Homo sapiens: one gene and its partners. The protein of the gene in region 1 interacts with the protein of each later gene in a pairwise test. Each region holds a gene or a part of one and is shown in the gene's direction. Other genes may lie near its edges.

Region 1 (3,752 bases):
CTGTTATTCTTATTATTGCCCAACATGTGATGATTCTTAGTCTATACCTGCTTTCCCAGGCCCTCAATTTCCCAAAATCATGATTTCCCAATTTTTGGGGGGCATCCCCAGTTAGGTGCTGTCTCGGAACATTCCTGTGAGGCTGCTCTACCCAAGCCCTCTCCCTCTAGCGCCCTCTATTGGACACAGGTACACTATGCCGGAGGCTGTCAACCCTCAGAGTTCTAACACTGTACTTAGGGTGGAGGGCATGGTGGCAGAATTGTCACCTGGACTCCAAAAAGGATACTGCCTTATGCCCAGAGTCTTGCAAATATCTTTATTAATACAGTTCCTCCATCTTTTGGCCCTAACCCCCTCATTCCCTAGAGGCTCAGGCCACAGGCCCTGCATGTAAGTGGGGGGCAGTGTGCCATGCTCCCTGTAGGGAGTGGACAGTGGCACCCCAGAGATGTCCACCTCCTAATCCTGGAACCTGTGAGTATGTTGCCTTGGTAGTCCCCTATGGTAAAAGGGACTTTGCAGATATGATTAAGGATCTTGAGATGGGGAGGTGATCTTGGAATATCTGGGTGGGCCCAGGGTCATCCCGTGAGTCCTTACAAGTGAAAGAGGGAGGCAGAAGGCTCAGAGTCAGAGGGAGAGTTGAATATGCATTGCTGCTAGCTTTGAGGGTAAAAGTGGCTAGGAGCCAAGAAATGCAGGAGATCTCTGGAAGCTGGAAAAGGCAAGGAAACAACCATCCCCCAGAATCTCCAGAAGGAATGCAGCCCTGCCGACACATTCATTTTAACCCGGTGTGATGTATTTTGGACTTCTGACCTCCAGAACTGCAAGATACTAAATACGTGTTGTTTTAAGCCACCAGATTGTAGTAATTTGTTACAGCAGCAAACTATAGCGATGAATACATTCTGCTGATGTCTTTGTTTCCTATCCCTATTTCTCGCTCTAGGTTTACATTTTAAAACTGTTTCCATCTAGGCCGCGCGCTGTGGCTCGCGTCTGTAATTCCAGCACTTTGAGAGGCCAAGGCAGGAGGATCACTTGAGGTCAGGACTTCGAGACCAGCCTGGCCAACATGGTGAAACCCTGTCTCTACTGAAAATACAAAAATTAGCTGAGCATGGTGGCATGCACCTGTAATCCCAGCTACTCAGGAGGTTGAGATTAGAGGATTGCTTGAACCCAGGTGGTGGAGGTTGCAGTGAGCCAAGATCATGCCACTGCACTCTAGCCTGGGTGACATAGCGAGACTCTGTCTCAAAAATAAAAAAAATAAAATTAAAAAACTATTTTCTTTTTTTTTAGCGTTAAATCGAAAGTTCCCTAGTTAATTCCCACAATTAGGAGGGGCCCACCAGTTCCACAAATAGGAAATCTCTGCACTGCTCTTGCTCGTAAAGTGTATTTGCTTTTTCATAAATTGCTTATGTTCTTTGAGCCACCAATGGTTTAATGTCAGAATAATATAGATCATTAGAGCCTCTCAAGATCCCACAAGGAACTGCACTTTCTCCTGTAGTTAACCATCCAGTCATCCATGCAAGAAATATTTATTGGATGCTACCATGTATCAGGCACTGAGCCAGTATTGAGATGTGAAGACACAGTGCATAATCTAAGCCTTTACAGAGGCCACAGATGTTGGGTTTTTATGGCTTGAGAACAACATACATTGTTTCTTTCCAGGAAGCTAATTGGGGTACATGGAGCCACTTTGACTAAGTAGCAAGGAACAGGAACTGCACACTGGTTCCATCTTGGCTTCCAATTTGTATTCAGACCCAGGCAAGAGTTAAAGAGTTCGATGATAGATAAGCACAGATGCAAAACAGTACAGTCCAGTGCCTCTTTGCTTAGGCTAATATCTGCCCTCTCTTTATCCTCTCCAGCCCTGCCTTCCTGCCTTTGACGCAGGGAGCTAAGGGTCTGAATGAACCCTGTTGGAGGTTGCAATTAAATCTTTGTGGACAAAGGCACACACACACACACATACACAGAATCCTCAGATAACAGGAGGCAATAAATCCAACAGCACATCCACGTTCAGAGAACAGTGTCCCTGCTGTCTTGCTAACAGCTGCCAATACCTCACTGAGTGCCTCACACCAACATGGGCTCCAAGGTAAGATTTTTCTCTCTCCGGACAAATTTAATCTTTCCTTGTGATTTGTGTCTCTGTCAGAGGATTTTGACTGTTAAGTAAAGTTTACTATTGATTTGTTGGCAAATTCCTGGTTTTGTTTGTTTTTGTTTTGGGATTTGGGTGTGTGTGTTTCTCTCTCTTTGTAGTACTTACTTCACTCACTATGTTTTTTAATTTTCCATGGCTTGTCTTTTATTCTTATCCATACATATCCTAAGTCAATTTGTATTCAGAAATACCTCCTTTATATAGAGAAATGAAGGATCTTAAGTAATTGCATGCATTTACTGGTTAAAACTTAACTGAGAATTTGGTTCACTTAGGACCTTGGTCACGTTAATATGTAGTAGTGAGAGGGTTCTTCCAGCCCTGGGCTTAGAACAGAGTACCTCAGTGTTTGGGGTACTCCCAACACCTGAGGCTGACTATTGAATTTCAGTGATAATCATTTAAAATTATTTACTTCTTTAATTACAAAAGTAGCTCATTATTGAATATTTAGAAATACACAGAAGATAACTGAAGTCATTGATTATAAATAACTGGCATTTGAGTATCTCTCTACTCTCTCAAAAATGTGCCCATATATTTATATTTAGACAATTGAGATAAAGTTGAAAACACAGTTTAATTTCCCTTTTTTACTTAACGTTATAGTAATAGTATTTTCTGTATCATTAAAATTATTTGAAAATATAATTTTTAAGAGCCGCTTAATAATCCACCATTAACATGTTTGACTTTTTTCACTAAGAAAAATAATTCTGCAATTGATCATTTTGAGTATAAGTCTTTGGCTGCATCTCTGACCTTTTTTCTTTTGTAGGATGGGTTCCTTGTAGTAGAGTTACTAAGTCAAAGAGTATACAATTTTTAGGGCCTGATAGATTTCATGATGGTAATCTATTTTAAAATTTAAATGAGTGATATTGTTGATACCACAACAGAAGCCACGTCAAAGAAAATGAAATTCTCCCCAGAAACTCTTATTACTTGAAGTTTGACAAGGTACTGTGACTTAATGCTGACTAATGATATGAAATCCTGAATAGAGAACTAATCATGAAAGTCAATATTTTATTTTCACAGATGAAGGCATCTTTCTGATCAGGGGTTTGTAGCTCAAACAAAAGAATGAGCGTGCTTCTAGAACCACAGAGCAAGGGAACATGGTAGAGGATAAGCTGGCAAGTTGAAAAGCGTGGGATTTCATCCCAGTTTGACACTAACTGTGCAACCCCAAACAAATCTCCTAACCTTCAGAGGCTCGGATTTCTTGTCTATGAGATGAAGGTTGGTCTACATCAGTGTTTCTCAGTGGGCAGCCCAAGTGACACTGTGCCACATGAAATATTTTGGGGTAGCACCTAGAACAAAGGTCATACTTTTTTTGCATGCCACATAAAATAACTTTTTGAAACATGATATCAATATCTATGTTGGTTTTAAAAATTTTTTGAGAGTTAGGGGTCTTGCTATGTAGTCCAGGCTGGACTCAAACTCCTGGGCTCAAGATATCCTCCCACCTCAGCCTCCCAAGTAACTGAGACTCCAGGCACATCCCACCATACCTGGCAGTATCTCAATATTTTAAAAGAGTGGA
Region 2 (3,752 bases), on another chromosome or scaffold:
CAAGGGTATGGAATTCCCATAATATTCAAAGAGTTTTTCTTTAGTTTTAGGTGATACGCCTTGAGTAGGAATATCATGAGGCTGTTTCCAGCTTCGAGTATGTTGGTGATAGGGTGTAAGGGATCTCAGAGCATCTAGTCTTGTCCATATCTTAAATCCAGGCACTGAGGTCCAGAGGGGAGTTATTTACCCAGGTCACATCAGATGAAGATAATGAAGTATTCCAAGAGGATTTTAGTTTTATTCCAAATAGGGTAAGTGTTCTGAGAGTGTGAGGAGAGAAGGTGAGGAGGCTGGGGTAAGGATGGGCATAGAAGGGGATGGAAAGGAGGGCTGAGAGAACTCAGAACCAAATTTCAGGCTATCACTTTCTCCACGCCACATTCCAGTGCCTTGCCATCAACTCTTCTGTGAATCTTCAGGAATTTTATTAATTCCCCAGGACCAACTTAGACTTTCATAAGTTAGATGTAGTTATATTACTTCCCTGAAGCACTTTTATGCACAAAGAATAGATGTAGCAAACAAACTTCACAAGATTTAATTTTTGAGTTTCCTTTTTTATTCTGAGGAATTCCGCTGTAATTCTCAGTGACACAGAACCTCTAGAGCTACTTCACTATGACAACCTTCTTCAAATCTCCAAAGGGCTGTTACATAAGGAAGAGGGTCGGAGTTCTGTATTCAATCAAGAAGGCAGAAGATTGAGATGATAAGTTGCTACAGGGAGGCATAATTTAAAGTCAATTTAAACTGTAATCCCAGCACTTTGGGAGGCAGAGGCGGGAGGATTGCTTTGAGCTCAGGAATTCAAGACCATCCTGGGCAACACAGTGAAACCCCGTCTCTACAAAAAAAAAATAGTCGGGTGAGGTGGCACACACCTGTAATCCCAGCTACTTGGGAGGTTGAGGCTGGAGAATCGCTTGAACCCAGGAGGCAGGAGGCAGAGGTTGCAGTGAGACGGGATGGTGCCACTGCACTCCAGCCTGGGCGACCGACTGAGATCCTGTATTTAAAAAAAAAATAAGGTCAGTTTAAGTTTCGTTCCTGGGATTGAGCGGATTGCCTTGCATTAGGCAAGGTTTTAAGTGCTTTCCAACTCTGGAATTCTATACCTTTCCCAGTAGATATCTAAACCCAGCAAATCCTGGGCCTGAAGTTTAAAACTAGGATCCTCGTCTCCCAACCACATCTAGATGATCCCATAGTGTAATGAAGGGTGCTTGGGCTTTGACACCAGGCAAACTTGGATTTTGACCTGGGACAACTAAGTCACTTGACCTCACTGAACCTTAGCTCCCTCCACTGACAGTGGGGACAGTCTGCTGGAGGGTGTGTAGAAGACCTCGGGTTGCCTTTTGGAGGTTCTGGAAATGTCCCTTGAAAGATGAATGGAGTTAATTTAAAAATCTTCGCCTTCTGTAATTTTGGCTTCTTGCAAACACGCTTCCTGCCAGTCCTGCTCCGTCAGGCGGGAGGCAGCAAACCCCAGCCCTGGCTCCAGGACAGGGCCGAAGGCAGGATAGACGGAGCAACGGGTCCGGCTGCCGCCGGGATGTTGCAGCACAGGGCCTCCTGGCTGCCTGGCCTACAGGCCGCCCGGATTCAGCCGGAGGGCATGGACCGGGTGGAGTCCTGCAAGGCGAGAAGGGACACAGCGCATGCGCGCGGCAGGGAGGGCGTTTCCAGGAGGGAGCGGCCTTTGCTCAGCGCGAGACGGCTGGGCGCCGAGTGGGACAGCGCTGGTGCGGAGACTGCTTCCGGACTCCAGGTACCGCGCTTGGCGGCAGCTGGCCCCAGACTTCTGTCTTTTCAGCTGCAGTGAAGGCTCGGGGCTGCAGGTGAGCTGTGCATCCCGCAATGGAGACCTTCCTGCTCTGAATTTTCTTACAAAACTGCAGAAATATAAGGGGCGTTGCTTAGCGGGCATCCCCTCCCCCGCGCCAAACCTGTACAGCAAACGATGATGCAGAGGACCTTGAGGGGATTTTGCAGGGCATCGGTCTTACCTCCGCGGTATCATTTTTCTCCTCCTCCCGAGTTTCTGCCTTCTGGTATCCCTAAATATCCCACCTATCCTGCCTCCTACCTTCCTGGATCTGGGGTGGTGGGGTGGGCTCATGGACCATTGCAAAATGCTTGGCAGGATTTTAACCTTCTCAGCACCACCCAGACCCCACTCGAAAATGTGCCTTTTGTGCCCTCCAAGAGCTCAAGGGTAGGTAATTGTTATATCTTTAGCATGTGAAAATGCTTTTTATGTAACAGTTCACCGAAAATCTCTTAATTCTCCGAATTTTGGAGGATTTGGGGCGGGCAGCGAGGCTGTCCCCTGTCACCTTGTTTTGTACCTGGTATGGTAAATCGTTTTGCTGCATTGCATCCAAGATGCGTTTTAGTCCTTCCAAGGCTTGAGCATCACATTTGTGATGAGAGCGTGTGATGTGCTGTGCACATCCTCTCCCACCTTATCCCTTCCATGTTAACACAGCCTCTGGCTTTAATGTGTGCTTCTGGCCTGGCCACATGGCTCCGTCATGGAATAGGTGATTCTTTTGTCTGAATATTCTCTGTGAGAACAGAATCTTCTTGCAAGCATTGGGAGTAGATTTATTTTGCCTCTTTAGAACAACAGTCAGTTCGCTAAGGAGATTAAGGGGCTACCTGTTTCCTGGCAATAAAGCTGTATTGGGTAGGTCAGTTACAGAATGTCTTCAGGCAGAAGCTGTTCCTTTGGTTCACTCACTCATTTATTCATTTAACAAGTATTTTAAGTACCTGCCTTGTGCATGGCAGGGTTCTTGGTGCTGTGAGGAGGACAAAGATAAACTGAACCTTGGTTTGCCCTCAAGGAGCTTGGCTGGCTGAGAGTTGAGAGAATCCCAACCAAGTAAAAGGGTATGGGTCCTCAAGAGAAGATCGCAGGAAGAGCTGGGGGGCTCAGGATGGAGTGGAATTAATCTTTCACAACAGCTACTTAGCTTTAGGAGAAAATTAGGTCTAGAAGTTACACCTGATAATGAAAGAACTCTCATAAGCTTCAGATCTGTATGTAAGGGTGTTTTCCGGACTGTGTGTTGGGCGTCTCAGACTGAATACATTCTAAACAGGTCCCATCATTCCTAGCCACCTCCCTCTTCCCACCGCCACACACCTGCTGCTGTTCCCATGTTCTCTGTCTCAGGGAATAGCATGAGGCTCCCCGACTCCCTACTTCTCCTAATGGTCTAAGCCAGATACCTAGGGGTGAGTCATCTCTGATTCACCCCTGACTTTCCCTTCCCGCCTCAAATTCAATTCTGATTCTACCTCCTGAACTTCTGAAATCTGTCCACCTTCTCTCCATTCTCATTGCCATTTCTCTAGATAAGCCTACCGTTATCAACTAAGCTCTTGCTTACTTTACTGCAACAGCTTCCCGATTTATCTCCCTGCCTCACTTCACAACCCATCTTCACTACTGCAACTGGGAAGTGCTTGCTGGAATTTAAATCTGATTGTGAGGCTCCCTTCAGTGATCCTTCATTGCCCTTAGGACGGAACCAGACTCCCTTTACGGGGCTTATGTGGGTGTACAGCCCTGTCTTTCTCACCAGCACCCTCTCTTTTCACAAGCCCCTTGCACTTTTCATTTTGAGAACATGCTTTCTTGTGCCATTAGGGCCTTGCACATGCGCTCCCTTCTGCCAGGAACACCCTTCCCTGCACCCTCTTCACTTGACTTATTCATGCTCCCCTGTAGGGTAAAT
Region 3 (3,752 bases), on another chromosome or scaffold:
CATTTGAGTTGGTTACACAATTTCACAATTGTGAATTGTGCTGCTATAAACATGTGTGTGCAAGTATCTTTTTTGAATAATGACTTCTTTTCCTCTGGATTGATACTGAGTAGTGTGATTGCTGGATCAAATGGTAGTTCTACTTTTAGTTCTTTAAGGAAACTCCACACTGTTTTCCATAGTGGATGTACTAGTTTACATTCCCACCAGAAGGGTAGAAGTGTTTCCTGTTCACCACATCCACACCAACATCTATTTTTTTTTTGATTTTTTGATTATGGCCATTCTTGCAGGAGTAAGGTGGTTTCACAATGTGGTTTTAATTTCCATTTCCCTGATCATTAGTGATGTTGAGCATTTTTTCATGTTTGTTGGCCATTTGTATATCTTCTTTTGAGAATTGTCTATTCATGTCCTTGGCCCACTTTTTGATGGGATTGTTTGTTTTTTTCTTACTGATTTGTTTGACTTCCTTGTAGATTCTGAATATTAGACCTTTGTCAGATGTACAGATTGCGAAGATTTTCTCCCACTCTGTGGGTTATCTGTTTACTCTGCTGTCTGTTCCTTTTGCTGTGCAAAAGCTCTGTAGTTTAATTAGGTCCCAGCTATTTATCTTTGCTTTCATTGCATTTGCTCTTGGGTTCTTGGTCATGAAATCCTTGCCTAAGCCAATGTCTAGAAGGGTTTTGCCAATGTTATCTTCTAGAATTTTTGTAATTTCAGGTCTTAAGTTTAAGTCCTTAATCCATCTTGAGTTGGTTTTTGTATAAGGTGAGAGATGAGGATCCAGTTTCAATCCCCTACATGTGGGTAGCCAATTATCCCAGCACCATTTATTCAAAAGGATGTCCTTTCCCCACATTATGTTTTTGTTTGCTTTGTCAAAGATCAGTTGGCTGTAAGTATTTGGGTTTATTTCTGGGTTCTCTATTCTGTTCCGTTGGTCTATGTGCCTATTTTTATACCAGTATCATGCTGTTTTGGTGACTATGGCCTTATAGTATAGTTTGAAATCAGGTAGTGTGATGCCTCCAGATTTGTTCTTTTTGCTTAGTCTTGCTTTGGTTATGTGGGCTCTTTTTTGTTCCATATGAATTTTAGAATTTTTTTTTCTAATTCTGTGAAGAATGATGGTGGTATTCTGATGGGGATTGCATTGAATTTGTAGATTGCTTTTGGCAATATGGTTATTTTCACAACATTGATTCTACCCATCCATGAGCATGAGATGTGTTTCCGTTTGTTTGTGTCATCTGTGATTTCTTTCAGCAGTGTTTTATAGTTTTCCTTGTAGAGGTCTTTCAACTCCTTTGTTATGTATATTCCTAAGTATTTTATTATTACTATTATTATTTTTTGCAGCTATCATGAAAGGGGTTGAGCTCTTGATTTGATTCTCTGCTTGGTCGCTGTTGGTGTATAGAAAAGCTACTGATTTGTGTACATTAATCTTGTATCCAGAAACTTTTGCTGAATTCTTTTATCAGTTCTAGGAGCTTTCTGGAAGAGTCCTTAGAGTTTTCAAGTTAAACGATCATATCGTCAGCAAACAGTGACAGTTTGACTTCCTCTTTACTGATTTGGATGCCCTTTATTTCTTTCTCTTGTCTGATTGCTCTGGCTAGGACTTCCAGTACTATGGTGAAGAGGAGTGGTGAGAGTGGGCATCCTTGTCTTGTTTCAGTTCTCAGAGGGAATGCTTTCAACTTTTCGCCATTCAGTATTACGTTGGCTGTGGGTTTGTCATAGATGGCTTTTATTACATTAAGATATGTCCCTTGTATGCCGATTTTGCTGAGAGTTTTGACAATAAAGCAATGCTGGATTTTTTCAAATGTTTTTTCTGCATCTATTGAAATGATCATGTGATTTTTGTTTTAAATTCTGTTTATGTGGTGTATCACATTTATTGACTTGCATATGTTAAACCATCCTTGCATCTCTGGTATGAAACTCACTTGATCATGGTGGGTTATCTTTTTGATACATTGTTGGATTCAGTTAGCTAGTATTTTGTTAAGGATTTTAGCATCTATGTTCATCAAAGACATCAGTCTGTAGTTTTCTTTTTTGGTTACGTCCTTTCCTGGTTTTGATATTAGGGTGATGCTGGCTTCATAGAATGAATTAGGGAGGGTTCCTTCATTCTCTATCTTGTGGAATAATGTCAAAAGGATTGGTACCAATTCTTCTTTGAATGTCTGGTAGAATTCTGGTGCGAATCCATCCGTTCTTGGACTTTTTTTGTTGGTAATTTTTAAATTACCATTTCAATCTTGCAGCTTGTTATTGATCTGTTTAGTGTATCTAATTCTTCCTGATTTAAGCTAGGAGGGTTGTATTTTTCCAGGAATTTATCCTTCTCCTCTAGGTTTTCTAGTTTATGTGTGTAAAGGTGTTCCTAGCAGCCTTGAATGATCTTTTGTATTTTGGTGGTGTCAGTTGTAATATCTCCTGTTTCGTTTCTTAGTGAGGTTATTTGGATTTTCTCTCTTCTTTCCTTGGTTAATCTTGCTAATGGTCTATTAATTTTATTTATCTTTTCAAAGAAACAGCTTTTTATTTCATTTATCTTTCATGGGTTTTTTTGGTTTCAATTTCATTTAGTTCTGCTCTGATCTTGGTTATTTCCTTTCTTCTGCGGGTTAGGATTTGGTTTGTTCTTGATTCTCTAGTTCCTTGAGGTGTGACCTTAGATTTTCTGTTTGTGCTCTTTCAGACTTTTTGATGTAGGTGTTTAGGGCTATGAACTTTCCTCTTAACACTGCCTTTGCTATATACCAGAGGTTTTGATAAGTTGTGTCATTATTGTCATTCAGTTTGAAGAATTTTTAAATTTCCTTCTTGATTTTGTTTTTGACTCAATGCTTTCAGAAGCAGGTTATTTAATTTCCATGTATTTGAATGGTTTTGAAGATTCCTTTTGGAGTTGATTTCCAGTTTTATTCTACTGTGGTCTGACAGAGTGCTTGATATAATTTCAATTTTCTTAAATTTATCAAGTCTCATTTTATGGTCTAGCATATGGTCTATCTTAGAGAAAGTTCCATGTGCTGTTGTATAGAATGTGTATTCTGCAGTTGTTGGATGAAATGTTCTGTCAGTTGTAATATCTCCTGTTTCATTTCTGTTAAGTCCGTTTGTTCCAAGGTAGTTTAAATCCATTGTTTCTTCATTGACTTTCTGTCATGATGGCCTGTCTAGTGCTGTCAGTGGAGTATTGAAGTCCCCCACTATTATTGTGTTGCTTTCTATCTCATTTCTTAGGTCTATTAGTAATTGTTTTATAAATTTGGGACCTCCAGTGTTAGCAGCATGTATGTTTAGGATTGTGAAATTTTTCTGTCGGACAAGGCCTTTTACCGTTATATACTGTCCCTCTTTGTCTCTTTTAACTGATAATGCTTTAAAGTTTGTTTTATCTGATATAAGAATAGCTACCCCTGCTTGCTTTTGGTGTCCATTTGCATGAAGTACCTTTTTCCACCCTTTTACTTTAAGTTTATTTGAGTCCTTATGTGTTAGGTGAGTCTCCTGAAGGCAGCAGAGGGTTGGTGAGTTCTTATCCATTCTGTGGTTTTGTGTCTTTTAAGTGGATCATTTAGGCCATTTACATTCAATGTTAGTATTGGAATGTGAGGTACCATTGCATTCATCATGCTCTTTGTTGCCTGTCTACTTTGGTTATGTTTTTGCTTTTTAATTTGTATTTTTGTTTTATAGGTCCTTTGTGATTTATGCTTTAAAGA

The links.
Region 2: the proteins of SLC18A1 (region 1) and TMEM14A interact in binary tests that used the Homo sapiens proteins (3 or more experiments, as listed by UniProt).
Region 3: the proteins of SLC18A1 (region 1) and MALL interact in binary tests that used the Homo sapiens proteins (3 or more experiments, as listed by UniProt).

What each region holds. Positions count from the first base shown.
Region 1 is NC_000008.11:20,181,439-20,185,190, reverse strand, and holds the start of SLC18A1 (chromaffin granule amine transporter), read left to right. Parts: upstream 1-2,054; 5' UTR 2,055-2,128; intron 2,129-3,238; exon of another isoform or gene 3,239-3,442; intron 3,443-3,752.
Region 2 is NC_000006.12:52,669,402-52,673,153, forward strand, and holds the start of TMEM14A (transmembrane protein 14A), read left to right. Parts: upstream 1-1,711; 5' UTR 1,712-1,844; intron 1,845-3,752. UniProt on the Homo sapiens protein: Inhibits apoptosis via negative regulation of the mitochondrial outer membrane permeabilization involved in apoptotic signaling pathway.
Region 3 is NC_000002.12:110,109,087-110,112,838, reverse strand, and holds part of MALL (MAL-like protein), read left to right. Parts: intron 1-3,752.